Homo sapiens: one gene and its partners. The protein of the gene in region 1 purifies or fractionates together with the protein of each later gene. This does not show direct contact. Each region holds a gene or a part of one and is shown in the gene's direction. Other genes may lie near its edges.

Region 1 (5,622 bases):
AGAGAGAGTGTTGGGGGGTCAGGCGGGCCTGCAGGCAGCAGGAGCAGCTCCAGGAGCAGAGGGTGGTCAGCAGGGTCCCGTGTTGCAAGGCCCTAGCTTCAAGGAGACTTTGCTCTGAAGTGGCTGGAGCAGATATTGGCCGAAAGGCAGCACCAGGATGAAAGAGAGACGTGATGATTCGAGAGAGTTTCAAAACAAGGAAGGAAGTGACCAGCAGTAGCAAATGTATTAAGTGTGATATGGGACGTCCACAGGTGATAGAAAATGGCACAGCCCTTACAGAAAACATTTTCAGATAATGTTTCGTGACTCGGGATAGAGTGCTCACAATATGACCATTTGGTGGAAAGAAAAGTTTGTCTTAGGGCCTACAGACAGATGGGCTCAGGTATCAGTCAGAATTCTGGTTGTGCCACTTCATAGCTGTGTGACCCTGGGCCAGGGACTTGTCCTCTCTGAGGCTTAGATTCCTCCTCTGATAATCAAGAAAATAACCTGGAGCATGGGACCCCTCCCTCATAGGGGTGTCGTTAGGATGAACCAAAATGATGTCTCCGGTTTAGCACAGGGCCCGGTGCTGTAGCTTGCATTTAATATTAGCAATGTTAGCAATTATTATGAGGCATTCTGTTACCCAAACCTATCCACATGCACACAGCACACCCGTATACCCACATAAGCCAAGGTAACTGAGCTCTCAGAACCCTGGGATTGAGGTGGTTTTATGTTTCTCCTACTTTTGTGTATTTTTTTTACACCCTTTGTAAAGGGTATTGCTACTTTTAGTTTGGGGGTTCTCAGGCATTCATGGGGGCAGGAACAAGGGGCTCCCCGCATGGAGGGAGACAGAGGCTGACGTGGAATGAAGTCCGAGGGAGGAAGCTCAAACTTCCCCTCCTGCAGGGATGAGGCTGAGGTGGAGTTACCCCCTTCCTGAAGCCAGCTGCGGGAGCGGCTCGGAGGGGACCCCGTGGCCCGGTTGTCATAACAACTCAGCGGGCGCCTCGGGAGGGAGACTCTGAAGCTTATTTTTAGAGCACCGTCGCCCTAACAACCAGGCTGGCTGGTAACCACGGAGTACCTGGGCGTCCTGGAGACGGGGTGGGACCAGGTCCTCCTCCCCAGCCTCTAACTGGCCCGGGCGGTCAGCAGGGGCCAATCCGGGCCTGGCTTCAGGCCCCGCCCTTCACCGGCCAACCGGAGCTGCCTCTGGGCTGGAAGGATGGAGGCTCTAGGGGCCCCTGGCTGGGAGAAGAATGGGGCAGATACAGGGGCCACAGTGCCTCTCCTCATCCTCCTATGGCTTTTCCAGCCCCAGGACCCCTCACGTATGCTTGTAAAACCATGGAAACAGACTTGTTCCTGCCAGGCACACCTTCACCACTTACCAAGGCGTGTTCATGCTGTGTGCCCCCAGAAGGCAGTACCCTTGCCAGGATCAGCTACTACAGAGCCCAGTGCAAAATGAGCGTGCAAGGTCCCTTGCTCAAACATTTAGAACGTCACGGTGGTGACTACACAGACTCATCCACCTGCTGCTGTTTTCCTTATTAGCTGGCGTGCTTTACCTGTGGCTGCCCTGTGTGACTCCCGTAGATGGTCTGTCCTCATGGAGGATGGACAGAGATAGCCACAGAGGTGGTTAGTGGGGTGCCCAAGCTGAAGGAAGCAGCAGCATGAGCCTGTGCGTCAGGTAGACACACTGGGTTCAGACCCACGCTCTGACACTTACATGGCTTTCGTGCCTTCAGAGCCGGGGTTCTCTGCCGTGACATAGTGACTGTTGATCTTCTGTGGGGGCTCAGCCCTGTGTGGGCACCAGTCGTGGGCGAACAGAGCAGATGTGGTTCCTGGAGACCGAAACTTACAGTGGGGCAGCACCTTCCCTGGGGAGTCTGGAAGATTGTGTATTTGTAAACCATCTAGCTTAGAGTCTGGGGAAGACCAGAGAGAACAGTTCACCCCATTAGATCCCTGAGGTGCTGGGGGTTATGATTTGGGGTGAATTATAAGTTACAGGGAATCTAAGGGCTGTTGCTCATCATAGTGGCAAACCCCAGCATCTTGGACTCAGGCCTCTGGAGTCCCCCTTGCTGCCTCTCCCAAGCCATCCTCACCCCAGCAACATGTTCTAGGCCCCCTGTAGGCCAGAGGGAGTCTCTGCCACTTCCTAGCGTTGGTCTCCCAGCCCTGTGCAACAGGGCCGGGTCCTTGGGAGCTCCCAACAGCCCCAGGGATCCCAGAGCTCCTGGCTCCCCGGGGCGGAGTGGGGCTCTGGGTCTAGCATCACTGTGTGCTGGATTGTTTCAGGCACTGTGGTTCGACCTGCAGCAGCGCCTGTCAGATGAAGATGGCACCAACATGGTGAGGCCCCTTCCCACCTCTCTTCTGGGACCACATCCCTACCCATGCCAGGACTGCCAAGATCCAAGTGGCTCAATGCCCCTGACCCCGCTCTCCCTGCTTGGGACCACCAGGAGGGGAGATGTCGCCCAGCGCTTGGCACCCAGACCCTGCCCTGGCACAGGAGCCACCCCACCAACTCCGGGGGTATTTCTTGAGGCTCCCTGGACCTTTTTTTTTTTTTTTTTTTTTTTTTTGAGATGGAGTCTTGCTGTATCTCCCAGGCTGGAGTGCAGTGGTGGGATGTCGGCTTACTGCAACCTCTGCCTCCTGGGTTCAAGCAATTCTCCTGCCTCAGCCTCCTGAGTAGCTGGGATTACAGGTGTGTGCCACCACGCCTGGCTAATTTTTTTGGTATTTTTAGTAGAGACGGACAGGGTTTCACCATGTTGGTCAGGCTGGTCTCAAACTCCTATCCTCATGATCTGCCCACCTTGGCCTCCTAAAGTGCTGAGATTACAGGCGTGAGCCACCACACCTGGCCCAGAGGCTCCTGGACTTTGATCCAAAAAAGGTTTGGCATAGAGCAAAGTGATCAGCCAGACAGTGATGTGAAAATGCTGAGTCCATCAACTATGAGTTTTTCTTGTCAGTGGATGTGCTGTGTCTCCAGGCCCTGGAGGCTGTGCAGGTGGTTGTGGACATGGATGGGGCCTCTGTAAACAACCTCGTCTGTTTTCCCCATTTTTGGGGGCTACTTCTGCACTGGGCTCTTGAGGTTCTAGTCCTTTCTTAGCCCATTTTTAGTCCATTCTTATCCATTCATGGGTAAGAATGAAAAGTGGGGGAGGGTTATTTTATTTTGACCGAGGAAGGGAGGTCATGGGGGCCTGATGGGGTGTTTAGGGAGAAGGCCTGACGTGGAGCCCCACACTGACTCCTGCTGTGCCCGGCAGCACCTGCAGCTGGTCCGGCAGGAGATGGCCGTGTGCCCCGAGCAACTGAGCGAGTTTCTGGACTCTCTGCGCCAGTATCTGCGGGGGACCACTGGCGTGAGGAACTGCTTCCAGTGAGTGAGCTGCCGAGGCGTGGGTGGGATGGTGGCAGGGAGCTCTGCCTGGCAGTGGAGGAACAGGGCAGGACTAGGCTTTGCCCTAAGTAGTACAAGTTGCACCCCAGGGACACACACAGCTGGATGCGTAAGAAGTGGGTTCAGGTCTCTACTGAGGTTCCTCCCAGCCAAGCAAATGTGGCAGGTGTCTTCATCTCCCTGGCATCAGCTTACTCATCTGTAAAGGGGGGACCACCCCCAGGACTCCTTGCTGGGGTGATCATGAGTGCATATACAATCAAGTGTGTGAATCTCAAGTGTGAAGGGCTCCAGCTGGGCCTGGTGTGCCCCGTGCGCTCAGTCAGCCTCAGCTGCTGCTGTCACAGGGGTTCCTGCACACTTAAGTCCAGGCCCAGAATGTAGTATTTGCTCAGTTAACCACTGAGGAAGGAGAGGAGAGTCGGTAGCTGAAGGGAAATGCCCAAGTCATGTAGTTGCCCTTCTCCCCCTGATGTGCTGAGATGTCCAGGGCGGGGCAAGCGGCCTTACCTTCAAATTCCTGTTCATCCCACCAGGCTGATGTAGCTCCTTGGTAAAGCTAAGGCATGTGGCCAGGGCCAGAGTGGAGGGGGTTGCAGAAGACAACAGCCCTTTGTTCTTGCTGGTAGTGGTCCCCCGCCCCCCGTTTCTGCAGCAAGGCTCTGCCCAACTCCCTTCCCAGGGCTTTCTTCCATCCCCAGAGCACACACTCATTCACCCCATTGCCTGGGGACATGGCTGTGAACCAGGCAGGCCAGGTCCTAGCACAGGGTCTTTGAGAGGGGTCTTCTTGGGCCCCCTGTGCACTGAGGCTTGAGTGACAACAGCCTGACCTGTAGCACGAGGGGAGGAGTAGCCTGGGCAGGAGTGCGGCCGTTCCCGAGACTCGGCGTGGCCACGAGGGGCCATTCTTGAGTAAGTAGCCAGGATGGGGGGGCAGGACCCACTCCACTCCAGGAGGACAGACTGCACAGGAGCAGGGGCCAGACTTGATCTTTTTCCATTACGTGAATAAGTGGGAGGCTCCAGGGTGAAGTAGGGCCACCCCGATGCGCTGTGGAGAGGAGGCACGGTGGACGTAGAGGCTCTGGTTTGTCGAGTTGGAGACGGCAAGCCTGGAGAGCCAGGTGAGATTCTACTTCCCAGGCATGGTGCACCTAAAGCTGCACGGAGGTGTGTCCACCCCAAGATGGAATCCAGCCCGGCCCCTTCCTCTAGGCTGAGCACTGTAGCCCCTCCTCCCCAGCTTTTGGCCCCCGCTTTATGGTCACTTGGGGCTTCCTCATTGTAGTGCACTTGCAGAGAGGATTCTGGGGCGGCATAGACTATCAGCACCTTTAAAATGACGTGAGTGCGGGCCCCTGGGTCCCATAGAGCAATGGGGGACTTGCCTGCAGCCCCTTCCTCTGTGGCCCAGCACCCCCTCCCCTCAGCCTCCTTTGGTCAGGTCAGGTACAGTGCAGTGGGGGTGTTGCAAGGATTAAATGAGAGGACAAGTAGAAGGAAGAAGAGGGAAGATGCTTTGATTTTTAAAGGTTTTTTGATTTTTAAAGGTTTTTTGAGACCAAATCTTGCTTTATTGTCCAGGCAGGAGTGAGTGTGTAGTAGTGGAAGCTCAGCTCACTGCAACCTCTCACCAGAGGGTTTAAATGAGTCTCATGCCTCAGTGTCCTGCATCGCTGGGATTACAGGGATGTGCCACCAGGCCCAGCAAGTTTTATTTTTTTTTTTTTTAAAGAGACAGTGTTTTGCCATGTTGGCTAGGCTGGTCTTGAACTCCTGACCTCACGTAATCCACCTGCCTCGACCCCTCAAGACTTCCCAAAGTTCTGCGATTACAGGCGTGAACCATCACATCCAGCCACCTGGTTTTGTTTAAATAAATGTTCACACTTTAACATGACATTTCAGCTGGGCACAGTGGCTGAAGTTTGCAATCCTGGCACTTTGGGAAGCCAAGGTGAGAAGACAGCCTGAGCCCAGGAGTTAAAGACCAGCATGGGGAACATAGCAAGACCCCATCTCTATTGGGACAGTTTTTGAATTAGGCCGAGTGGTGCACTCCTCTAGTCCCCGCTACTTGGAAGGCTGAAGTGATTGTGCCACTGCACTCCAGCCTGGGCAACAGAGTGAGACCCTATCTCAAAAGAAAAACTACACTGCATTGATTCTATTTAATAAATAGCTGT
Region 2 (3,898 bases), on another chromosome or scaffold:
CACTGCATACTGCCATTCTTTTTCATGTTTATCAGGGTGATGAGTGAAAATACTTCAGTGTTTTAATTTTTCAGTCTTCTTACTTCATCTAGTATGCCCTACATTTGTGTAGGACTTAAAGTAATTTTACAGATAGATGACATATCCGTGTTAAATGAGGTAATTTCTCATATCTTTCAGTTAAATATGAGTTAAATCAGCTTACCAGGTAGCATAACCACTGTCACCCTCAAGGACTTCTCAATACAGAGAAGGAGGGGGTGACACAGAATGTAAAAATTAAAATTATGAATTTAATAGAGACCACAATATAAGGAATTTGGCAATAAAAAAGATAAATGGGTTAGAAGGTATTTTCTAAAGAATTCAAAAAATGTTTTAAGTGATAGAAACATTGTCAAAATAAGTGTATCACCTTCTAAAATGACATTTTGAAAAAGTAAAATTGATAATGTTAATAAATTATAGTATGTCAGACCCTGTCAAACTGTCCTCCATGAGAACACATTAGGCACAGCTATAGAGATAATTCACATATTGGAAAATAGAAGCAAAGAAACTAACTAGAATACAGACCTGGAAAACACAGAGATTGAAAATATGAAAAGGAGATTTAGTAACACAGAGCATAGAGAGAAAAAGCATACCATATAGTTAGCCAGAGTTCCTAAAGAAAATAGTCCCAGTTTCTTCAGGAACTCTGGCTAACTATATGGTACGCTTATACCATATAAGCATATCATATGGTGTAAGGGGGACTATTTGAAGACATAATAGCTGAGAACTTTCCAGAATTGAAGAAAGGCACCAAGCCATGATTTAAGAAGCCCAACAAACCCAAGCAAGAATTCTTTCTAGACATATTGTAGTGAAACTGTGGGACAATAAATATAAAATCTTAAAAGACAGAGGAAAAAGGGGCCGGGTACGGTGGCTCACGCCTGTAATCCCAGCACTTTCGGAGGCTGAGGTGGGTGGATCACCTGAGGTTGGGAGTTCGAGACCAGCCTGACCAACATGGAGAAACCCTGTCTCTACTAAAAATACAAAACTAGCCGAGCGTGGTGGTGCATGCCTGTAATCCCAGCTACTCAGGAGGCTGAGGCAGGAGAATCGCTTGAACTTGGGAGGTAGAGCTTGCGGTGAGCCAAGACCGTACCACTGCACTCCAGCCTGGGCAACAAGAGCAAAACTCCATTTAAAAAAAAAAAAGTAGAGAAAAAAGGCCTCAAAGGAGCAACTATGAGAGTGATAGCCAATTAGTCTTCAACCATAATATAAATATAGAGACAGTGGTAATTATTTCAATATGCTAGGAAAAAACCCTCAGTCTAGATTTATACCCAACAAACATAGGTTCTTTGTCCTTGCCAAGAACAAAGATGAAATAAATACATATTCAGACAAGGAAAGCTGAGTAAGTTTGCCAGCAGACCTCCAATAAAGGAATTCTAAGTTCAGAGAGAAGGAAATTATTTTCAAACGGAAGGTCTGAGAAGCTAGAAGGAATGAAGAACAAAAAGTGTTAAATATGTATGTACATGTTAATCTGATAATGTCTTTTGGGATTAATAGAGATGGAACAAAAATAGAAGACAATAATAGCATATAAATTATGAAGTGAGGCCGGGTGTGGTGGTTTATGCCTGTAATCCCAGCACTTTGGGAGGCCGAGGCGGGCGGATCACTTGAGGTCAGGAGTGTGAGACCAGCCTGGCCAACCTGATGAAACCCTGTCTCTACTAAAAATACAAAAAAATTAGCCTGGTGTGGTGGCATACACCTGTAATCTCAGCTACTTGGGAGGCTGAGGCAGGAAAATCACTTGAACCTGGGAGGCAGAGGTTGCAGTGAGCGGAGATCACATCACTGCACTCCAGCCTGGGTGACAGAGTGAGACTCCATCTCAAAGTAAAATAAAAATAAATGATAAGTGACATTCTAAGTTTTTATGTATTTGGGGGGATAATAATATATGTTAACTTTGGGCTTTAATAGGTATTTAAAATTTTCAAGGAACCAAAAGACAAGAAAGATTATAATTTCCAGACTAGTACAAGAAAAAGTACAGAATGAGAAAAAAATTCCAAAAGAAGGCAAGAAAGGAAAAGAAAAAAAGACAAGATATAATAAATAAAAAGCACAAAGAATAGCTGAAAATAAATCCAAACATTACTAGTTGCAATAACTATAAGGTACTAAATATTCTAATTAAAAGACAAAGAGTAGCTTGGCGCAGTGGCTCACGCCTACAATCCCAACATTTTGGGAAGCCAAGGCAGGTGGATCACTTGAGCCCAGGAGTTTGAGACCACCCTGGGCAACATAAGGAGACCCTGTCTCTACAAAAAGTACAAAAATTAGCTGGTTGTGGTGACGTGTCCCTTTGTCCCAGCTACTCAGGTGGCTGAGGCAGGAGGACCACTTGAGCTCGGAAGGTGGAGGCTGCAGTGAACCAGGATTGTGCCACTGCACTCCAGCCTGGGCAACAGAGACCCTGTCTTGCAAAAAATAAAATAAAATTAAAAAATAAATAAAAGAACAGTACCTCTTAAAATCTTACTCTTAATGGCATTCGTAGACTACATTCAGGCCTGCTATTCAGCTGATACTGGTTCAGCTATACTAGTTGTTAAAATATTGATATGTCCATAGTGGTTGAACAGTTACTGTCCCAAGCCTGTTAAGTGTCATCTTAATGCTTCATCGCCTTCCTTGGGACTTCCTATAGTAACCAATTATATAGCAACTAAAGAGTTAAGAACTAGGACAGCAAGAGACTGTCAGCAAACATCTCACTGGAGAACTACAGGGCAGCAGCCATTCTAATTACTCCTCACCCGTGCCTGGCAACCTCCAACACACAAAAAAATCCATAGGCCCAGTGACCATCTGGCTTCCCTAAGAGTAGGGCTGCCTACCTTTCTCATATCACTCTCACATGGCCCCTTTGGGAACTACAGCCCCGGGAGATCCAGAAAGAAGAGCAGTCAAATGAGAGTAATAGTACTGTACTACCGCAGTTGCCATCAAAATATATTAATTCTCTTGGCACAGTATACATTCCCATGGCAGGATAGAATCTACAGCAGATGATCGAGGCCTGTGGGGATGGTTTATGGATGAATAACTTCTGGGATGCACATCCTTAGTTTTATCATTCTTGTTTAATTTCCCCATTATTTAGATAGGATAAGTGTGCCAACACCCAATGAATACCTGCCTACAGTAGGCATTAATGACACTCATGTTATAAATGAAAATGACTACCAAAATACATCTTTTTCTGTCTACCAGACACATTTAGTTGGGGGAATTAAGAAGCAGAAAGTTTATTAAATGAAGGTTCTGTACCTTGGTGTATGCTGTTAACTGCTGTGTTACGTTACCTCTCACCTGGACTGAGGGATTAGGTTTAATATAATTAAGTATATCAATAAATTATTTTTGTGACTTAGTTATTAATATATTTAAACAAATATTGACTATATGAAACTAACAGCAAGCATTTGAAGGGCTAAAAACATTTTAAAATATACTTACTGTTACTTCAGCAAAAGCCAAAAAGAGGATTCAGCTCCCATGAACAATTCTGTTGATGTTAAGAGTGATTTCTTTTTTTTAGGCCAGGTATGGCAGCTCATGCCTATAATCCTAGCACTTTGGGAGGCTGAAGGTGGAGGATTGCTTGAGCTCGAGTTCAAGACCAGCTGGGGCAACATAGGGAGACCTTGTCTCTACAAAAAATTTTAAAAAGTGTGATTTTTTTTAACGTATCATGACTACAAGTTATTTAATGACTATAAATTTAATGTGGACATTCTTAGAAGGGCTTTATCTAGTTTCCTATGTCAATTCATGGTTCAGACAAGGGCATCTGTGTCAAATAAAAGATTAT
Region 3 (5,622 bases), on another chromosome or scaffold:
CAAGGTTATATATGTATCTCTTTCTGTTGCCCAGGCTGGAGTGCAGTGGCATAGTCATGGCTCACTGCAGCCTTGAACTCCTGGGCAATTCTGCCTCAGCCTCCTAAGTAGCTGGGATTACAGGCATGTACCATCATGCCCAGTTAATGTTTAAATTTTTTGTAGAGACAGGGTTTTGCCAGGTAGCCCAGGCTGGTCTGGAATTCCTGGGTTCAAGTGATCTGCCTGCCTTGGCCTCCCAAAGTGCTAGGATTACAGGTTTGAGCCATGCACTGGCTTATTTTTTAATTTTTAGGGATACATAATAGTACATGTGAGAAACATCATTTCTTTTTCTTTTCTCTTTTTTTTTTTTTTGAGATGGTGTCTCGCTCTGTCACCCAGGCTGGAGTGCAGTGGCGCAATCTCGGCTCACTGCAACCTCTGCCCCCTGGGTTCAAACAATTCTCCTGCCTCAGCCTCCCCAGTAGCTGGGATAACAGGCACGTGCCACCATGCCCAGCTAATTTTTGTATTTTTAGTAGAGACGGGGTTTCACCATGTTGGCCAGGGTGGTCTCAAACTCCTGACCTTAAGTGATCCACCCGCCTTGGCCTCCCAAAGTGCTGGAATTACAGGTGTGAGGCAACGCGCCCGGCCGAGAAACATCTTTTTTTTTTTTTTTTTTGAGACAGAGTCTCGCTCTGTCGCCCAGGGTGGAGTGCAGTGATGCGATCTCAGCTCACTGCAAGCTCCGCCTCCTGGTTTCACGCCATTCTCCTGCCTCAGCCTCCCGAGTAGCTGGGACTACAGGTGCCCGCCACCATGCCCAGCTAATTTTTTGTATTTTTTAGTGAGACGGGGTTTCACCGTGTTAGCCAGGATGGTCTCGATCTCCTGACCTTGTGATCTGCCCTCCTCTGCCTCCCAAAGTGCTGAGATTACAGGCGTGAGCCACAGTGCCCGGCCAAGAAACATCATTTCGTAATGTAAGAACCAAACTTGCCTAGTTGGATCTTACATTTAGGCATCCTGCTTGGTAGGTAGTTTTCTCTTACAGGGTTATTAGGTTTTATAAGATTTCATCTAGGCTGTCTTTATGGAATTCAATGATAAAATATTTTGTAATCTTTTCAAATAAAAATTATCAACTAAATTTAAAGTTTTGGTAAATTTTAAAAAGTGTGGCTTGATAAATCAAATTCGTCTCTCAGTATAAAAATAATATAAGGCTGATGAATTTTGAAAATGGAACAAAGGTCAGGCACAGTGGCTCACGCCCGTAATCCCCGCACTTTGGGAGGCCGAGGCGGGTGGATCACCTGAGGTCAGGAGTTCGAGACCAGCCTGACCAACAATGTGAAACTCCGTCTCTACTAAAAATACAAAAGTTGGCTGAGTGCGGTGATTCATGCCTGTAATCCCAGCACTTTGGGAGGCTAAGGCAGGCGGATCACCTGAGGTCAGAAGTTCGAGACCAGCCTGGCCAACATGGTGAAACCCCATCTCAAGTAAATATACAAAAAATTAGCTGGGCTTGGTGGTGTGCACCTGTAATCCCAGCTACTTGGAGACTGAGGCAGGAGAATCACTTGAACCCAGGAGGCAGAGGTTGCAGTGAGCCGAGATCACACCACTGCACTCCAGCCTGGGCCACAGAACGAGACTCCATCTCAAAAACCAAAAATAAACAGTATTTTGGGAGGCCAAGGTGGGTGGATCATCTGAGCTCAGGAGTTTGAGACCAGCCGCACCAATATGGAGAAACCCTGTCTCTACTAAAAATGCAAAATTAGCCAGGTGTGTTGGCCCATACCTGTAATCCCAGCTACTCGGGAGGCTGAGGCGGGAGAATCACTTGAATCCGGGAGGCGGAGGTTGCTGTGAGCCGAGATCGCACCACTGCACTCCAGCCTGGGCCACAAGAGCAAAACTCCGTCTCAAAACAAAACCAAATGAAACAAAAATTAGCTGGGCATGGTGGTGGGCACCTGTAATCCCAGCTACTTGGGAGGCTGAGGCAGGAGAATCACTTGAACCCGAGAGGTAGAAGTTGCAGTGAGCCGAGATCACACCACTGCACTCCAGCCTGGGCAACAGAGCAAGACTCCATCTCAAAAAAACAAAGGAATAAATTTGTTTTTCTTCTACTATAGTATAATTACCCTATCTGCACTTTTGTTCATATTTAGATATAAATGATGATCATGTTGAAGATGTTACAGGAATTCAGCATTTGACAAGCGATTCAGACAGTGAAGTTTACTGTGATTCTATGGAACAATTTGGACAAGAAGAGGTAAAAATGACATTTTCTGATTGGTGTATTTTCAAAGTGGTGTATTAGAATTCAATGCGTAACTTCTGTTAGTAGCAAATATACATGCTATTTTTCATTTTGAAAAGATACTCCTAAAATGTTTAAACATTTGTATTTTAAACTATTTTTTATGAATTCAAAAATAGGTAAAATTCTGGAAAAGTCAAAGAAAAATTAATAATATTAACTACTCCATTATAACTAATAATATACATATATTTATAAATATTCTAGGAGACGTGGGATGGGGATGCAGAGAAAACACTTTTTATGCTAGTCCCAATGTTTGAAACATTTATTAATGTTCAGGAAAATTGAATGATCTTCTTTGTTGTTTTTTTTGTTTTTTAGAGATGGGGTCTCTGTCTGTCACCCAGGCTGGAGTGCAGTGGCGCAATCTCGGGTCACTGCAACCTCCGCCTCCTAGGTTCAAGCAATTCTCCTGCCTCAGCCTCCCAAGTAGCTGGGATTACAGGCATGTGCCACCACACCTGGCTAATTTTTGTATTTTCAGTAGAGACAGAGTTTCACCATGTTGGCCAGGTTGGTTTCAAACTCCTGACCTCAAGTGATCTGCCCACCTCAGCCTCTCAAAGTGCTGGGATTATGGACGTGAGGCATTGTGCCCAACCTAAAAATGGGTTCTTGATATGTTGCCTAGGCTGGTCTCAAACTCTTGGCCTCAATCAGTGCTCCCACCTCAGCCTCCCAAAATGCCGGGATTACAGGTGTGAGCCACCAAGGCTGGCCTGAATAATTTTCAAACAAATAAGTCTGTTCTCCACATTGACTGTAATTCACTGGATTGAAATTTTTAGTGGAAATAATTTTTAAATTTCAGTTAATTAAGATCCAGTATTGGGAGAGAAAACTTGAAAAACAAATTATAGGACATCCATGAATCCTTTTTCTCAACTTTTTCTGATAATGATGATAGCAGTATTTTAATTTTTAATTTTTTAATTTTTAATTTTAATGGGCACATAGGTATATATATTCATGGGTTAGACTGGGCTCAGTGGCTCACACCTGTAATCCCAGGAGGCTGAGGCAGGAACTTCGCTTGAAACCAGGAGTTTGAGACCAGCCTGGGCAAGAAGGCGAGACCCCCATCTCCACTTTATTTTTGTAAAATATAAAAAATATAATAAATATATATTTATGGGGTATATGAGATATTTTGGTGCAGGCATATGATGTGTAATAATCACATCAGGGTAAATGGAGTATCCATTATTTCAGACAGTCATCATTTCTTTGTGTTCCAAACATTCCAATTGTACTCCCTCAGTTATTCTAAAATGTACAACAAAGTATTGCCGACTATAGCCACTCTGCTGTGCTATCAGGTACTAGATCTTATTCATTGTATCTCTATCTCCATGAGTTTAATTGTTTTAATTTTTAGCTCTCACAAATAAGTGAGACCATTTGAAGTTTTTCTTTCTATGCCTGGCTTATTTCACTAAACATAATATCTTCCAATTCCATCCATATTGCAAATGACAGGATCTCATTCTTTTTTATGGTAGAATAGTACTCTGTCGTGTATATGTACCACATTTTCTTTATCCATTCGTCTGTTCATGGACACTTAGGTTGCTTCCAAATCTTGGCTATTGTGAATAGTGCTGCAATAAACATGGGAGTGCTGATATCTCTTCAATATATTGATTTCCTTTCTTTTGGGTATACAGCCAGCAGTGGAATTGCTGGTCATATGGTAACTCTATTTTTGGTACTTTTTTTTTTTTCTGAGGCGGAGTTTCCCTCTTGTTGCCCAGGCTAGAGTGCAATGGGATGATCTTGGCTCACTGCAACCTCCGCCTCCTGGGTTCAAGTGATTCTCCTGCTTCAGCCTCCCGAGTAGCTGGGATTACAGACATGCGCCACCATGCCCCGCTAATTTTGTACTTTCAGTAGAGACGGGGTTTCTCCATGTTGGTCAGGCTGGTCTCGAACTCCTGACCTCAGGTAATCTGCCTGCCTTGGCCTCCCAAAGTGCTGGGATTTCAGGCGTGAGCCACCACGCCCGGCTTGTTTGTTTGTTTTTTAAGAAACTTCCATACTGTTCTCCCCAGTGGCTGTACTAATTTTACATTCTCACCGACAATGTACAGGGGCTTCCTTTTCTTCACATCCTTGCCAGCATTTGTTATTGCTTGTCTTTGGGATAAAAGCCATTTTAACTGGGGCGAGGTAATATCTCATTGTAGTTTTGATTTGCATTTCGCTGATGATCAGTGATGTTGAGCACCTTTTCATATACCTGTTGGCCATTTGTAGGTCTTTTGAGAAATGTCTATTCAGATCTTTTGCCCAGTTTTAATCAGGTTATTAGATTTTTTTCCTATTGAGTTGTTTACGCTCCTTATGTATTCTACTTATTAATCTGACAAAGGTGGTTTTGACAGCTATATTTCTGTTTGGCCTCTTTATATCCTCTCCCCATTCTGTTTCCTACCTACCTACCCTGTTCTAATACAGTTCAGTGTGTCTTATAGAAAATCATTTATCTTTTGCCTCCCTGAAATGATTTTAACTTTTTGTGTTTTTCTCCTTTTCTCATTTCATAATGCAATTAAATCTACCCCTTTTCTCAAATTTTAAAAACACATGAATAAAATATCTTTTACTTAAGGTCAAACACAAATGGAGTGGCGTAGGCTGGTCATGGTGGCTGACACCTATAATCCCAACACTGTGGGAGGCCGAGGCAGGTGGATCACTTGAGCTCACAAGTTTCAGAGCCGCGTGAGCAACATGGCAAAACCCCGTCTCTACAAAAAAATAAAAAACTTAGCCAGGCATGGTAGCTACTCAGGGAGGATGGCTTGAGCCTGGGAGGCAGTGGTTGCAATGAGCCAAGATCGCACCACTGCACTCCAGCCTGGGCTATAAAGCCAGAACTTGTCTCAAAAAAAAAAAAAAAAAGCAGCATAAATTGGAAGAATAATGATAAGGAGGCCAAACTGAGAATGAGTGAAATTAGTGAAAAATGAAAAGGATGAAAAACTCAGATTCCCTTTTATTTTTTTCTTTTTAAAAAAGAGATATTTGGGGAAGGTTGATGAAAGGGACCAGATAGAGATTAATCTCAGTAAATATCCAGCTGCTACATTCTAGTTTTGTTCCTGTTTTCTCTCTCAATCAGTTGATGGACTAAAGCTCAAGGGGCTGTCTGACCTGGCTTCTGGAGTGCAGTGGCACAATCTGGGCTCACTGCAACCTCCACCTCCTGGGTTCAAGTGATTCTTGTGCCTCAGCCTTCCAAGTAGCTGGGACTACAGGCATGTGCCGCCCTGACTGGCTAATTTTTGTAT
Region 4 (4,697 bases), on another chromosome or scaffold:
GAACATATTTGTGTGTATGTCCCAGAGTGTACGTTTTTTTAAAGGCCCTGTCTGATCCTTTCCTTAGCAGTATTTGAAATGTACAACCTATTTTGAAAACTAACTGATGTTTAGACTTGTTAGCTTTTTTGCTCTGATTTAGATAGTAAAACAGTCATACTTCTTACTCATAGTTCTAAACCATGCTTAATTTTTCCATCACTAACACTTGCAAAAGGTTCCATGGTGGGTGAAATGGACACTTAGGAGGCCTAGATCTTCCACTTGTTAGATTTTTAAATTAATTGTACTTTAATTTCGTCACCTGTCACATGAAGAGATTAGATTCAGTAATTCCTTAGGACCCTAGGACCTTTCCAGCTCTGACATTCTGTGGCTCTGCCTTATTTAACTCCTTCAGAGTCAAAATTACATTTTCATGAGATAATAATAATCTTTGTTAAAATTCATATAAGTTCCTTCTTTATGAAAAAAAAAAGAACCTTCCAAATGATAATTTTGAAGGTGGAAAAATCATACATTCTTTTTCTTCTAAAATTATGAGAATAATAAAATACTATGTAGGCCTTAAAAATTGGAAAAAACCCCAATCTTCCTACCAGAAGTTACTGTTATGAATTTTATGGTTTATTTCTTTTTACTATCCAGTTAAAGTATTATTGAAAATGTAGGTAGCTGAAAAGGTTCCCCAAGTAAATAGAAAGAATCTGAAAGTATGAGTTGGGTTAAACATGTAATCTTTTCTTTCCTTTTGTCTTTTTTTTTTTTTTTTTTTTTTTCCAAGACAGAGGAGTCTCGCTTTGTTGCCCAGGCTGGAGTGTAGTGGCATGATCTCGGCTCACTGCAGCCTCTGCCTCCTGGGTTCAAGGGATTCCCCAACCTCAGCCTCCCGAGTAGCTGGGACTACAGCCGCATGCTACCATGCCCGGCTAATTTTTGTATGTTTTGGTAGAGACAGGGCTTTGCCATGTTGGTCAGGCTGGGTCTCAAACTCCCGGCTTCAAGTGATCTGCTCACCTCGGCCTCCCAAACTGTTGGACTGTGCCTTGCCATAATCTTTTCTTTGTTATATGATTCCTTTAGTAATTGAGCATAGATTCTTTGTCTTTTCTAGTGTTTGGTATGATAATTTTGATCTTCAGGTAGGTGGTAGACATCATGTCTGTGTATCATTGTTAGTAGACAAGTACGTACTTTAATAAAAATGCATCTGTTTTTAATTAACAGAGAATTCTTGAATTGGAAAGTTCTTTGGAAAAAAGCTTACAAGAAAACAAAAATCAGTCAAAAGATTTGGCTGTTCATCTGGAAGCTGAAAAAAATAAGCACAATAAGGAGATTACAGTCATGGTTGAAAAACACAAGACAGAATTGGAAAGCCTTAAGCATCAGCAGGATGCCCTTTGGACTGAAAAACTCCAAGTCTTAAAGCAACAATATCAGACTGAAATGGAAAAACTTAGGGAAAAGTGTGAACAAGAAAAAGAAACATTGTTGAAAGACAAAGAGATTATCTTCCAGGCCCACATAGAAGAAATGAATGAAAAGACTTTAGAAAAGCTTGATGTGAAGCAAACAGAACTAGAATCATTATCTTCTGAACTGTCAGAAGTATTAAAAGCCCGTCACAAACTAGAAGAGGAACTTTCTGTTCTGAAAGATCAAACAGATAAAATGAAGCAGGAATTAGAGGCCAAGATGGATGAACAGAAAAATCATCACCAGCAGCAAGTTGACAGTATCATTAAAGAACACGAGGTATCTATCCAGAGGACTGAGAAGGCATTAAAAGATCAAATTAATCAACTTGAGCTTCTCTTGAAGGAAAGGGACAAGCATTTGAAAGAGCATCAGGCTCATGTAGAAAATTTAGAGGCAGATATTAAAAGGTCTGAAGGGGAACTCCAGCAGGCATCTGCTAAGCTGGACGTTTTTCAGTCTTACCAGAGTGCCACACATGAGCAGACAAAAGCATATGAGGAACAGTTGGCCCAATTGCAGCAGAAGTTGTTGGATTTGGAAACAGAAAGAATTCTTCTTACCAAACAGGTTGCTGAAGTTGAAGCACAAAAGAAAGATGTTTGTACTGAGTTAGATGCTCACAAAATCCAGGTGCAGGACTTAATGCAGCAACTTGAAAAACAAAATAGTGAAATGGAGCAAAAAGTAAAATCTTTAACCCAAGTCTATGAGTCCAAACTTGAAGATGGTAACAAAGAACAGGAACAGACAAAGCAAATCTTGGTGGAAAAGGAAAATATGATTTTACAAATGAGAGAAGGACAGAAGAAAGAAATTGAGATACTCACACAGAAATTGTCAGCCAAGGAGGACAGTATTCATATTTTGAATGAGGAATATGAAACCAAATTTAAAAACCAAGAAAAAAAGATGGAAAAAGTTAAGCAGAAAGCAAAGGAGATGCAAGAAACGTTAAAGAAAAAATTACTGGATCAGGAAGCCAAACTTAAGAAAGAGCTTGAAAATACTGCTCTAGAGCTTAGTCAGAAAGAAAAACAGTTTAATGCCAAAATGCTGGAAATGGCACAGGCTAACTCAGCTGGAATCAGTGATGCAGTGTCAAGACTGGAAACAAACCAAAAAGAACAAATAGAAAGTCTTACTGAGGTTCATCGACGAGAACTCAATGATGTCATATCAATCTGGGAAAAGAAACTTAATCAGCAAGCTGAAGAACTTCAGGAAATACATGAAATCCAATTACAGGAAAAAGAACAAGAGGTAGCAGAACTGAAACAAAAGATCCTCCTATTTGGGTGTGAAAAAGAAGAGATGAACAAGGAAATAACATGGCTGAAGGAAGAAGGTGTTAAGCAGGATACAACATTAAATGAATTACAGGAACAGTTAAAGCAGAAGTCTGCCCATGTGAATTCTCTTGCACAAGATGAAACTAAACTGAAAGCTCATCTTGAAAAGCTAGAGGTTGACTTGAATAAGTCTCTGAAGGAAAATACTTTTCTTCAAGAGCAGCTAGTTGAACTGAAGATGCTGGCAGAAGAAGATAAGCGGAAGGTTTCTGAGTTGACTAGCAAGTTGAAAACCACAGATGAAGAATTCCAGAGTTTGAAATCTTCACATGAAAAAAGTAACAAAAGCCTAGAGGACAAGAGCTTGGAATTTAAAAAACTGTCTGAGGAACTAGCGATTCAGCTAGATATTTGCTGTAAGAAAACCGAAGCCTTATTAGAAGCTAAAACAAATGAGCTAATCAACATTAGTAGTAGTAAAACTAATGCCATTCTTTCTAGGATTTCTCATTGTCAGCACCGTACAACTAAAGTTAAGGAGGCACTGTTAATTAAAACTTGCACAGTTTCTGAATTAGAAGCACAACTTAGACAGTTGACAGAGGAGCAAAATACACTAAATATTTCTTTTCAACAGGCTACTCATCAGTTAGAAGAAAAAGAAAATCAAATTAAGAGCATGAAGGCTGATATTGAAAGTCTTGTAACAGAAAAAGAAGCCTTACAGAAGGAAGGAGGCAATCAGCAACAGGCTGCTTCTGAAAAGGAGTCTTGTATAACACAGTTGAAGAAAGAGTTATCTGAAAACATCAATGCTGTCACATTGATGAAAGAAGAGCTTAAAGAAAAAAAAGTTGAGATTAGCAGTCTTAGTAAACAACTAACTGATTTGAATGTTCAGCTTCAAAATAGCATCAGCCTATCCGAAAAAGAAGCAGCCATTTCATCACTAAGAAAGCAGTATGATGAAGAAAAATGTGAATTGCTGGATCAGGTGCAAGATTTATCTTTTAAAGTTGACACTCTGAGTAAAGAGAAAATTTCTGCTCTTGAGCAGGTAGATGACTGGTCCAATAAATTCTCAGAATGGAAGAAGAAAGCACAGTCAAGATTTACACAGCATCAAAACACTGTTAAAGAATTGCAGATCCAGCTTGAGTTAAAATCAAAGGAAGCTTATGAAAAGGATGAGCAGATAAATTTATTGAAGGAAGAGCTTGATCAGCAAAATAAAAGATTTGATTGTTTAAAGGGTGAAATGGAAGACGACAAGAGCAAGATGGAGAAAAAGGAGTCTAATTTAGAAACAGAGTTAAAGTCTCAAACAGCAAGAATTATGGAATTAGAGGACCATATTACCCAGAAAACTATTGAAATAGAGTCCTTAAATGAAGTTCTTAAAAATTACAATCAACAAAAGGATATTGAACACAAAGAATTGGTTCAGAAACTTCAACATTTTCAAGAGTTAGGAGAAGAAAAGGACAACAGGGTTAAAGAAGCTGAAGAAAAAATCTTAACACTTGAAAACCAAGTTTATTCCATGAAAGCTGAACTTGAAACTAAGAAGAAAGAATTAGAACATGTGAATTTAAGTGTGAAAAGCAAAGAGGAGGAGTTAAAGGCATTGGAAGATAGGCTTGAGTCAGAAAGTGCTGCAAAATTAGCAGAGTTGAAGAGAAAAGCTGAACAAAAAATTGCTGCCATTAAGAAGCAGTTGTTATCTCAAATGGAAGAGAAAGAAGAACAGTATAAAAAAGGTACAGAAAGCCATTTGAGTGAGCTAAATACAAAATTGCAGGAAAGAGAAAGGGAAGTTCACATCTTGGAAGAAAAACTTAAGTCAGTGGAAAGTTCACAGTCAGAAACATTAATTGTACCCAGATCAGCAAAAAATGTGGCAGCATATACTGAACAAGAAGAAGC
Region 5 (5,622 bases), on another chromosome or scaffold:
TCATCTTTTAACTATATATAACTTTTGTCAGAAGGGCCATCAGGCAAAAGTCTTGGTGCAGACTCATCCCTGCTCTAATAACTACTATTTATTAAGCACGTCAGGCATCATGCTAAGCAGTAGGTATGTTATTTTATTTAATTATCATATCAACAATACAAGGCATTATTTGTTTTTCCTTTTCAGTTATAAAAACTACGTTTTTTATTCTACTGTCAAAGAACAGTGCATAGTTTATGCAGTGTTCACTGTGGGTCACTTTATTTTTATTTGTGCAATTAATTCATTATACTTATTCAATAACATGTACTGCCATAACCCATCCCCCATTTTCAAAATAAGGAAACATATATTTCATTCATATATATGTGTGTGTGTGTGTGTGTGTATATATATATATATATATACCATTTACCATATATGTAAAAGGCAAAAATAATGGAAATATATATACATACATACGCAAAAGAGAGAGATTTGATTTGTTTGGCACTAAAATTTACCGTGTTTCCTTTGTTTTGAGCTGCTTTACTCTGTGGTGTGGCTAAACAATAAACATTATGGGATTATTTTACTGTGGTTTCCAGTGAGTTGTAGTATGTTGGAAGTACAGGCTCTGGCTTCAAATTGCCTGGGTTTGAATCTCAGCTTTGTGGCTTACTACTTGTGTGACCTTAGGCAAGTTACTTAAATTTATGTACCTTAGTTTCACTATTTTCAAATTGGGGGATGGGTTATAGCAGTACATGGCATGGAGTGAATATGATGAATAAATTGCACAAGTTAGAAAAAAAGCAATAGGTGCAGAAGGAAAACCACCATGGCACACATAGACATATGTAACAAACCTGCACATTCTGCACATGTATCCCATTTTTTTTAGAAGACATAAAGAGAAAAATAAATTAAAAAAATAAAGTATCTGACCCATAGTGAACAGAGTGCAAACTATCAATCCTACCCAGGCCTTTGGATGTCGAGTTTTCTGCGTTTCCTATGTTATTACATTTAATGTTCAACTGCCCTATGGATTGTGTCTTATCTTTATTTTATGACTTTAATGATAAAACATAATACTAACATAGATTAAATAACTTGTCCAATGTCCCACAGTACAAACAAAGGTGACAAAGCCGGTATTTAAATCTAGGATCATCTGATTTCCAAACTTTTATGATACTGACCTACAGCTTACAAACATATATCAATTTTTTTGAATTCTACTAATTTTGAGTCAGCATCCCTTCCTCTGCAAAGGAATGTGCAAATATCTACTTTTCTCATATATTCAAGAATATTTTAAAATAAACATGCAAATGCTTGAAGATAATCAGAAATCAAAATAATACGTAATTGCTATCTCAAATATCTCCTTTTTTAGTCAGACTGTAGAAGAAGTGTAAAAGAAAGACTTAGATGCAAAATATATATTTTCTGTATATATTATTCTATTGGTCTTGCAAATATATCAGATTCAAGAAAAATTCTCTAATGATTAGTTGTTCACAATAATGCTGGTTCAGGCCATGGGTTTTAAAATTTTGAGTATAAATGTTCTGAGGAAAATGAAAACTTGTAATCACAGTGATAATAGTGAGCACTTTAATAATGCAACCTTCTTACATTCATTATATTTTACAGAAGAATAATCAAAAATATTTTTTGAAAAACAATTTGTCTAAATGCATAGTAATGTAGAATTATTCAAAGACATAGAAGTAAATAATACACTATTATATCATTTGTTTAAAAATAAATAAAATGAAAAATCAACATGTAAATTAATTTATAAAGTTATCGTTATTGTTGCAGTCTTGTTAAAATTATAATAAACTTTGCATTTCCTATCAAGAACAGCCTTTGAATTCGGGAAGTATATCGTAGGATACTCTCCTCACATTCATTTCTTGTAATTTGTGATACTTAGAACTATGCATATTTAATGTAAGGTAATATCAACCTTGACTCTTAAAGCTTAAATTTGTCTTTCTCAAATTGAAATTTCTACCTTTTCAACAAGATAATACAGACAAATAACTGCATAAACATTGAGTAAGGCAAGCCTATTTCAACCGTCTCTCCTTAGCATTATTTGGAAGTTTCAGGTAGAGAATTTCTAAGACTGATGGGTCCAGATGATTGGCTCTTAGGTATGCTCTTCTTTCATGACTATGTCGATCTTGCCAGGATTAACTTTCATGTAAATTAGTGTTTTTCAACTGGAAGTGACTTTGACATACAGGCGACATTTGCTAATATCTGAGGACGTATTTGTTTATCAGAGCTGGGAGGGGATGGCATTGTCGTCTAGTGAACAGAAGCCAGGGGTGCTGCTAAACAACCAACAGTGCACAGACAACATCCGCCCACAACAAAAGATTATCCACTCCAAAATGTCAATAGTGCTCAGGTTGAGAAACCCTTATCTAAATGATGCTAGGAAACAGAGTTTCCTATATTTACTTGATTTGTTTGTATGCTTTCTGATGAATTTATGTACGTTACATAAGAATTTAATGGAAAGCAGAATCTCCAAAATGCTTTGCAATCAATGCATGAGGTTTGAATAACCAATTCACTTGTTTTTTTTTGTGGGGAGACCTCATTATTTGTTTATTAAGTTTGGGCTTTGGAGCCAAATATAGTTGGATTCATGTCCTGGTTCTGCCATTTATTGTAGGTTTGATACTTTGGAGAAGATTCTTGACCTCTAAACTTCGATTTCTAGAGGTAGTAACATAGGTAGTAATTATACCTACCTTACAGGGTTATTGTGAGTCTTACATTAAATAATTATTATACATTATTTAACAGAAAGAAGGCACTTTATAAATATTATGTATTAATAAGTAAGTGGAGATCATGTTATAGAAATGTAAAACCACGGTCTCAAGCATTTAATGATATGTAATGTAATATATAAATAATGATTTACAGTCTTCAGAGGTATACCCTTAATAACAAGAAATCAGCTGAAGGCTACAGGATGTGTAAAAGTCTAAAATCCCTGCTTTATAATTAAACTGAGACTAGTTAACAGTGGATTGCATCATGTTTATTGCTTTGCTGCAGAAGGCTGTTCCAGGTCTTCATAGACTGCTAAACCACTTGTTTAAATGATTTACAATGATTTAGTGAGCTCTATTGAACTGCCAGAACTTTTTAATTAATGGATAAAATTACAGATTTCATCTTTGTACAATAGTGTTTTATGGCCCTTTTTTTGTTGAGGGGGTTTCAGTTAAAATATGGCCTATATTTTGTGGGGCTAAACAGTGGGGATGCTGCATTTTCTTGTTTACAGGGTCACAAATGTGTGATTGAGATAGTAATGACAATGGAGCTTTCCTCAGACTACAGGGTTCTCTGTATCATTGCACCTCAGGCTGTCTCTTATCTGTGGTATGCACTTGTTTTCAGAAAAATATATCAGATGCATTGATGGCATATGCAATATTGACAGCCCTGACTGTTTGTGATGAGGCCACTGATCAGGCAGAAGAAATCATTTTAGTGTTTATGTCCTGAGCTGTGTGATTTGCTTGTGTGGAGATTAAGTTATATAAGAGACATCTGTGCCAGAAAGATGGTCAGTATTTTAGAAGATTGTTGAAAATAAAGGACAATGTGAGCTGTGAATCTGATTATATAGTGTAGATTGCAATTTATGGCAAAGTTTATCCATCAATATCTCTTTTTCATATCATTTAGGATATAATATGAGAGTGTGTGGTTACCTGATGTGAAATACTTTTGTATGTATTTAAAATATGTCTATTGTTTTCTATAATGTGCTAGTAATTAATTTACTCTGCTAAGGACCCACAAATATAACACTGAGTAAAGCATACTTCTGAAAATAGGTACTTGAACTAATATACTATATAATCAAACTATTAATACATTTACCCACTTTTTAGTGAATTAAATGTCACCATATTATTAGACTGTAGATCATAACATTTTAAAAGCTTTTTTATCATTACAAGAATTAATGCCTCCCCATTATCTACAGGATAAACCTGCCCCTTTATTTCTACTGACATATTATCCCCACCATCTAAAAGCTATAACCTAAAGAAAATAATTTATTTTACTTGAGAATTTGTTTCCTACTATAAGAAATTGGTGTTCTTAGACATTTCTAGAAGTATTATTTTTAGGTAGATGTGAGATCAAGAATGAAAAAAGGCTCTTTACGCTGAAAATAAAGTATTGTGGTATTTTTCTTCATCTTTTCTTTTACTAGACACTTGTTAAAATAATGAATGAATCTTGTGGTGACGTTGCACAGGAGAAATCTCACCACAAGGAGAAATGGCCTTACTCAGGAACTTATATAGAAGCAAGAGAGAGTAGATCCTCACAGAAAGAATATTGGATAGTTCTCAGAATTGATGATGTTAATGAGACAGATCTTGGAGTGAAGTTGATATCATCTTTTATATTCTACATTCATCAGTTGTAAACCAGGAGAAACATTTATGCCAGAAATATCATCTTTAAATAATTGTGCTACAAAGATACTTTCAAAAGCAAGCAAAATGCAACATTGTTTATGATATTAAGACAAATCTATAAATAACCTTAATATCTAACAATAAGGAATAATTAAATATTGGTACACACATATAATTGAATGCCATGCAACTGATAAAATTAAATAAATGTTCTAAATGTGACTCTTGGCTCTGGTACTACCCACTTGCTTGGGAATCTGGGCCAAGCCTCTGTATCTCTCTGAGCCTCAGTTCTTTTCTCTGTAAAATGTGCATACATAACTTATTTTACAGTTTGTATGACAACTAAATGTCATTTCATGTGAGATACTTAGCAAAGTGAACAACACATGATATGCCCTCTGTATATTTTAATTGTTGTTATAATTGTCCCCATCATCCAAATGAACTTATATGAAAGATATTTATATTATACAAAGAAAATAAAAATATATTATGAGAGAGATTTCATATTAAAATTTTATTTAAATAAAAAATAAAATATTATAAGCTTTGAAAATTATATAAGAGCTGATACCAAGTTGTAAACTATGATTAAAATTGTGTTTTGAGTGACATTTTGTTGAATTCAAGTCCCAGGTCTGCTATGAATCATTTGCTTTCCATGGATCTCAGTTAAATGGAATCATCTCCAGGGCCCTCTCTAGTTTTGTGATGCTATTTTCCTTAAACATCCTACAATATTAGCTTGGTAATGAATACTATAAGAAAGTATAAATAAATTGCCATGTGAGCTTGGAGGATAGAGCAAACACTGCCAGGTGAGGGATATGGTAATAATTTAGGAAGGGACTATTTTTAAATATTAGCTTATTCAATACTCACTAAAACTCTTTGGGGTAGGTACTGCTGTCACTCCAATTGCCAATAAAGGCATGAGGCTCAGAGAGGCTAAATGCCTAAGGACACACCGCCAATAAATGGCTGTGCCAGGATTCCAATTCAGGTCATTGGACTCCAAGCCCATGCTCTTAACAACTCTGCTATGAAGACAATTGGAACAACTGCATATCAGGGATCAGAAGCAGCATGTGCAAAGCCATTGGAATAAAACAGTGTATACTTGGACAAGAGCCTAACTTGACTAATAGGCTCCCAAGGA
Region 6 (5,622 bases), on another chromosome or scaffold:
GGCATGGTGGCTCACGCCTGTATTCCCAGCACTTTCGGAGGCCAAGGCGGGTGGATCACGAAGTCAGGAGATCGAGACCATCCTGGCTAACATGGTGAAACCCCATCTCTACTAAAAATACAAAAAATTAGCTGTGGGTTGTGGCACACATCTGTACTCTCAGCTACTAGGGAGGCTGAGGCAGGAAAATCACTTGAACTGGGAGGTGGAGGTTACAGTGAGCCGAGATCGCACCACTGCACTTCAGCCTGGGCGACAGAGTGAGACTCTGTCTGAAAAAAAAATAATAATAATAATAATAATAGTGCATTTTCATATGAGTATTTATTTTTGTCACTACTTTTAGGTATTAGAGTTATTTAGGTTTTACTCTATGGAATGACAGCCCTGAATAATTTATTTTATTTTATTTTATTTTTTTTTTGAGACGGAGTCTTGCTGTCGTCCAGGCTAGAGTGCAGTGGCATGATCTCGGCTCACTGCAAGCTCCGCCTCCCACTTCACGCCATTCTCCTGCCTCAGCCTTCCAAGTAGCTGGGACTATAGGCGCCTGCCACCACGCCTGGCTAATTTTTTTGTATTTTTAGTAGAGACGGGGTTTCACCACGTTAGCCAGGATGGTCTCGATCTCCTGACCTCGTTATCTGCTCGCCTCGGCCTCCCAAACTGCTGGGATTACAGGTGTGAGCCACCACGCCCAGCCCCTGAATAATTTATTCTAAAATGCACTGTAATTTGGGGAATATTAGAATATTTTGTCTCCAACTCAGATAGTTTAGGTTCCTACCTTGTGGGCTTATTTTGTTTATATTTAAATGGAATTCACTTCTATTTGTATTAAAATGTTTTAATGTGGCTGGGTGTGGTGGCTCACACCTGTAACCCCAGCACTTTGGGAGGCTGAGGCAGGCAGATCACTTAAGGTCAGGAGTTTGAGACTGGACTGGCCAGCGTGGTAAAACCCCACCTCTACCAAAAATACAAAAATTTAGCCAGGTGTGGTGGCTGGTGCCTATAGTCCCAGCTACCCAGGAGACTGAGGAAGGAGAATTGCTTGAACCCGGGAGGCAGAGGTTGCAGTGAGCCAAAATTGTGCCATTGGACTCCAGCCTGGGCAACACAGCAAGCTGCAGTGAGCCATGATCACACCACTGGGCATGAGCCATGATCACCCCAGCCTGGGCAACAGAATGAGACTGTCTTTAAAAAAAAAAAAAAAAAAAAAAAGGCTAATAAAATATTTCAAAAATTTAAAAATTGTATGTGCAGTATGAGTGCCATTAAGTTTTTAAAAAGCATAGTAAATGCAGCCTGGCATTATGGCTCATGCCTGTAATTCTAGTACTTTGGGAGGCTGAGGCGGGAGGATTGCTTGAGGGCAGGAGTTTGAGACCAGCCTAGGCAACATGGTAAAACCCCATCTCTACTAAAAATAAAAAAATTAGCCAGGGGTGGTGGCATGTGCCTGTATTTCCAGGCTGAGGCACAAGAATCGCTTGAACCCAGGAGGCGGAGGCTGCAGTGAGTCGAGATTGCGCCACTGTACTCTGGCCTGGGCAACAGGGCAAGACTCTGTCTAAAAAAAAAAAAAAAGCATAGGAAATGCATAAAAATATAACAACACTTACCTGTGATTTTGGGTCAAAGATAAGGTAGTTATGATTGTTTTTATTTTTTTAATACAGGTTGTACATGTCTTGAGGTTAGAAAAATCAAGCTAGCTATTTATTGATTGAATGTGTAGGCCTTGCACTGTAGACGTAACATCAGTATAGAGGTTATTTATCAAGCTGTAGCATGTTAGTGATCAATAACAAAACAGCTAAAAAAAAATGGCTCCTAGAAGTCATTTTTTTGTGGAATAATTTTCAAGTGTTTTAAGAAAAGCTATTTCTCCTGTTTTGTGTGTGTTTTTTTTTCTTTTTCAGCTTCAAGGTATTGCAGCATGCTGATTGAAGAAGGAGGATTGCAGCATTTATACAACATCAAAGATCATGAACATACTGATCCCCATGTCCAACAGATTGCTGTGGCCATTCTGGATAGCTTAGAAAAACACATTGTGCGCCATGGGAGGCCACCTCCCTGTAAAAAACAGCCCCAAGCCAGACTAAATTGATAGCCATAAGTATTGGATAGTTGAATCACAGGAATCCTTTTTGTGATTGGTCCATTTGGAATATCTTACCCTCCCTGATGTTTTGGGGGTTTCTATGACAAGAGTCATAAAATCAGTTTGGGATTGATAATGTGTAGTACTGCCCATGTGAACAGTCTCTAATTTGTCTTGTGATTTTAAACTTATGAGTCAAGAAGGGTCTCTTCCTTTATCATTGCCTTTTAGGAAATTTTCCACATCTTTCAGTGTTTGAACTTACTTGTGCTTGAGATTCTACAGTTTTATGGTAAAGTTTGCACGAACCCTTAGGCCAGACTTTTCTGATCTCAGAGTCCCTTCCAATCAATTTGCAGCTTCACATAAGCTGTTGACCTGATTTCTGACACTGCTTCAGTTGTAAATTTTATACTGCTTCTGTATAAAATGCCTTTCTTCTCTATCTGTGTATATTTTATAAGATGTCCTTCTTAGTGTGAAAGAAGGGAAATGTGGATCATCTTGTGGAAGCTAATCACTGGCAGGAGCCTGGATGGCTGGCGGAAAGATATATGAGAAAGAAAAATTATGAAGGTAGAACAGAGTGTAGGAACTGGGAATTGGTTTCATGGTATAGGTTTTAAAATGAGACAGGCTACCCTTCGGGAGTCCACCTCTCTTGAGGCGGTGAGCAGAAGCTTGTCCTCCATATTTATACCTAGAAGTGTGGACTGCTGGTTCCTGCACAGACTGCCGGTTATTCACTAGGAATATTTCCCCAAGCACCACAGTATAAAATACTACAGCACTCTGTGTTAAAGACTAACTGTCTACATCTCCATATGTTGTAGTGTTGTGAAAATGTGATTTTAAAAAATTATCGCCAGTTAAAACTGGCTATTCTTTTCCTCTATTTCAAAGTCATTTTTGTTCAGTGGAATAGAGACAGCAACATGGTGTTAACCTCTCAATTAAAATACAATTGACACCAGTAAATTTTGCCATAAAAAGTTAAAATCTCTTGTTCAAAATATGTGTATCTTCTTAATGTGTTCATGTTAGAGAAAGTGTCCCCATCTCACTGCCAAAAATGAAAGAAAATAATTAAACTCTTTAAATGATTAAATGTAATGATTCTACTCGCAGTGCATAACAGCACATATTTTTGACAGATTATTTTTTAGGCAATTACCTTTCCTTAAGGTATCTGATACAGTATAGTAAAGAATCACTTATATCAGTAATAGCACTTGAGAGATAGCAAGTCACCAAGAAACTTAATTTTCATTTAAAATTTTATTTTGTGAATAAGGTCAATCTACAATCCCAGATAACTACATTTTTTTTCATAGATGGCCAGTGTTTTCAACAGAGATTTAAAATGGAATATTAAAATTATAGTGATTATTCAGAAGCATTTTAATTTAGAAAGGAGCTGGTTTGTTAGTTCACTGATGACATTTTTTGACAAACATTTTATACCATTATCACAATAATCAGACTTGAATTTTTTTTGGAGTTCCTTCATGTGAATGAAAACTGAGTTAAAAGAAAGTAGGCATTTAGGTCTGGATGCAGTGGCTCATGCTTGTAATCCCAGCACTTTGGGAAGCTGAAGCAGGAGGATTGCTTGAGCCCAGAAGTTCAAGACTAGCCTGGGCAACATAGTGAGACTCGGTCTCTACCAAAAAAAAAAATTTTTTTTTTTTAAATTAGCTGGGTGTGGTGGCACCTGGGAAACAGAGCGAGACGCTGACTCAAATAAATATCTAAATAGATATTTAGAATCACTGAAAACCATATTAAATGCTGGGTTAATGCTGACTTAATTGGCTTAAGGAATTTTTATAGGCGTAAGATAAATTTTCACAGACTAAGTTTATTTCAGACAAAATAGAGAATTCTTTTAAAAGTTTTTTTTTTTTTTTTCCTTTTTCGAATGTTAATGTCTAAGACAAAGTTCAGAAAACGAGATGGCCTGTGGTAGTTTGGAAATTGCTAGATATGTTGACCGTTTCCAGGTCTTTTATCTAGTGTAGTTAAGGGAAAGCCTATTTAAGAAGTTTGGCTTCAAGTTTCTGTTTTATAAGACAAAAGTGCATATTTCTTTACAGGCTAATGCTAGGTTTTTGTCTTTACAAATTATTTTCAGAAATGGCTAAAAGTGTACAGAAAACAGTAAATCCCTTCTTTACTCAGAATAACTTCTTAATAGTTGAAGCATCCAAAATATGTAAAAGCAAGGGTGGGCGTAGTGGCTCTTGCCTGTAATCCCAGCATTCTGGGAGGCCGAGGCGGGCAGATCACTTGAGATCAGGAGTTCGAGACCACCCTGGCCAACGTGGTGAAACCCCGTCTCTACTAAAAATACAAAAACTAGCTGGGCATGGTGGCTTTTTTGCACGCCTATAGTCCCAGCTACTCGGGAGGCTGAGGCACGAGAATCACTTGAACCCAGGAAGTGGAGGTTGCAGTGAGCTAAGATCGTGCCACTGCACTCCAGCCTGGACAACGGAGTGAGACTCTGGGGAAAAAAAAAATTAAACTTCCTACTTTTTTTCTTTTTGTAGAGACAGAGTTTCACTCTGTCGCCCAAGCTGGAGTGCAGTGGCACAATCATACCTCACTGCAGCCTCTTGGGCTTATGTGATCTTACCCCCTCAGCCTCTGGAGTAGCTGGAACTACAGGCTAAATTTCCTACTTTGTAAACATCAGTAGTGGCCAGATACTTCTGAGTCTTAAAAGCATAATAGGCCGGGCGCGGTGGCTCACGCCTGTAATCCCAGCACTTTGGGAGGCCGAGGTGGGTGGATCACAAGGTCAGGAGTTCAAGACCAGCCTGGCCCAAATGGTGAAACCCTGTCTCTACTAAATATACAAAAATTAGCTGGGTGTGGTGGCGGGCACCTGTAATCCCAGCTACTCAGGAGGCTGAGGCAGGAGAATCGCTTGAACCTGGGAGGTGGAGGTTGTGGTGAGCCAATATCATGCCACTGCACTCCAGCCTGGGTGACAGAGTAAGACTCCGTCTCAAAAAAAAAAAAAGCATAATAATTTATTACATCCCAAATATATAAAAATTTGAGTGCCTTTGCAGTTGGGATGGTTCCTAAAATTGCGTATAGAATTAAGGCACAGAATTGTGTGTAAGGTCCTGAATCTGGCTAAAATACAGTGGATGTATGTATTGGAATTATGAGGCATAAGTAGCCAGTATCTATAGTTAGAATCTACAAGGCCTCCTTTTTGCACCTGTAGACTAGAATATAACTGTTATTGGTGCCTTTGAGTGTTATCTCTCAGTGGCTAGAGGTGCTGTTTCAAGCACAATTTAGACTAGGGTTGAACCACTCATTGTTCAAATCATTGGTGGGCTCCAATGTAAAATATCACTACATCAGTCCACAAGCAACATTAAGGAAATCTAAAGGAAATGGAATTTGACTTTTTAGAGTATAATGATGTTCTAGGGCATAATGAGGAAAATTTTTAAAAAATAGATTATAATGATACATATTGGTATCAT

Evidence for each region.
Region 2: the proteins of NECAB2 (region 1) and DCAF10 purify together in Homo sapiens (affinity purification with mass spectrometry; 2 studies listed by BioGRID and IntAct, with this or other methods). This does not show direct contact.
Region 3: the proteins of NECAB2 (region 1) and ACBD5 purify together in Homo sapiens (affinity purification with mass spectrometry; 2 studies listed by BioGRID and IntAct, with this or other methods). This does not show direct contact.
Region 4: the proteins of NECAB2 (region 1) and GOLGA4 purify together in Homo sapiens (affinity purification with mass spectrometry; one large-scale study listed by BioGRID and IntAct). This does not show direct contact.
Region 5: the proteins of NECAB2 (region 1) and GRM5 purify together in Homo sapiens (co-immunoprecipitation; one study listed by IntAct). This does not show direct contact.
Region 6: the proteins of NECAB2 (region 1) and ZYG11B purify together in Homo sapiens (affinity purification with mass spectrometry; 2 studies listed by BioGRID and IntAct, with this or other methods). This does not show direct contact.

The regions. Positions count from the first base shown.
Region 1 is NC_000016.10:83,994,906-84,000,527, forward strand, and holds part of NECAB2 (N-terminal EF-hand calcium-binding protein 2), read left to right. Parts: intron 1-2,310; coding exon 2,311-2,364; intron 2,365-3,299; coding exon 3,300-3,412; intron 3,413-5,622. UniProt on the Homo sapiens protein: May act as a signaling scaffold protein that senses intracellular calcium.
Region 2 is NC_000009.12:37,803,576-37,807,473, forward strand, and holds part of DCAF10 (DDB1- and CUL4-associated factor 10), read left to right. Parts: intron 1-3,898. UniProt on the Homo sapiens protein: May function as a substrate receptor for CUL4-DDB1 E3 ubiquitin-protein ligase complex.
Region 3 is NC_000010.11:27,212,191-27,217,812, reverse strand, and holds part of ACBD5 (acyl-CoA-binding domain-containing protein 5), read left to right. Parts: intron 1-2,171; coding exon 2,172-2,278; intron 2,279-5,622. UniProt on the Homo sapiens protein: Acyl-CoA binding protein which acts as the peroxisome receptor for pexophagy but is dispensable for aggrephagy and nonselective autophagy. Binds medium- and long-chain acyl-CoA esters.
Region 4 is NC_000003.12:37,322,361-37,327,057, forward strand, and holds part of GOLGA4 (golgin subfamily A member 4), read left to right. Parts: intron 1-1,227; coding exon 1,228-4,697. UniProt on the Homo sapiens protein: Involved in vesicular trafficking at the Golgi apparatus level. May play a role in delivery of transport vesicles containing GPI-linked proteins from the trans-Golgi network through its interaction with MACF1. Involved in endosome-to-Golgi trafficking.
Region 5 is NC_000011.10:89,055,052-89,060,673, reverse strand, and holds part of GRM5 (metabotropic glutamate receptor 5 isoform a precursor), read left to right. Parts: intron 1-5,622. UniProt on the Homo sapiens protein: G-protein coupled receptor for glutamate. Ligand binding causes a conformation change that triggers signaling via guanine nucleotide-binding proteins (G proteins) and modulates the activity of down-stream effectors.
Region 6 is NC_000001.11:52,819,511-52,825,132, forward strand, and holds part of ZYG11B (protein zyg-11 homolog B), read left to right. Parts: intron 1-1,928; coding exon 1,929-2,119; 3' UTR 2,120-5,622. UniProt on the Homo sapiens protein: Serves as substrate adapter subunit in the E3 ubiquitin ligase complex ZYG11B-CUL2-Elongin BC. Acts to target substrates bearing N-terminal degrons for proteasomal degradation with the first four residues of substrates being the key recognition elements.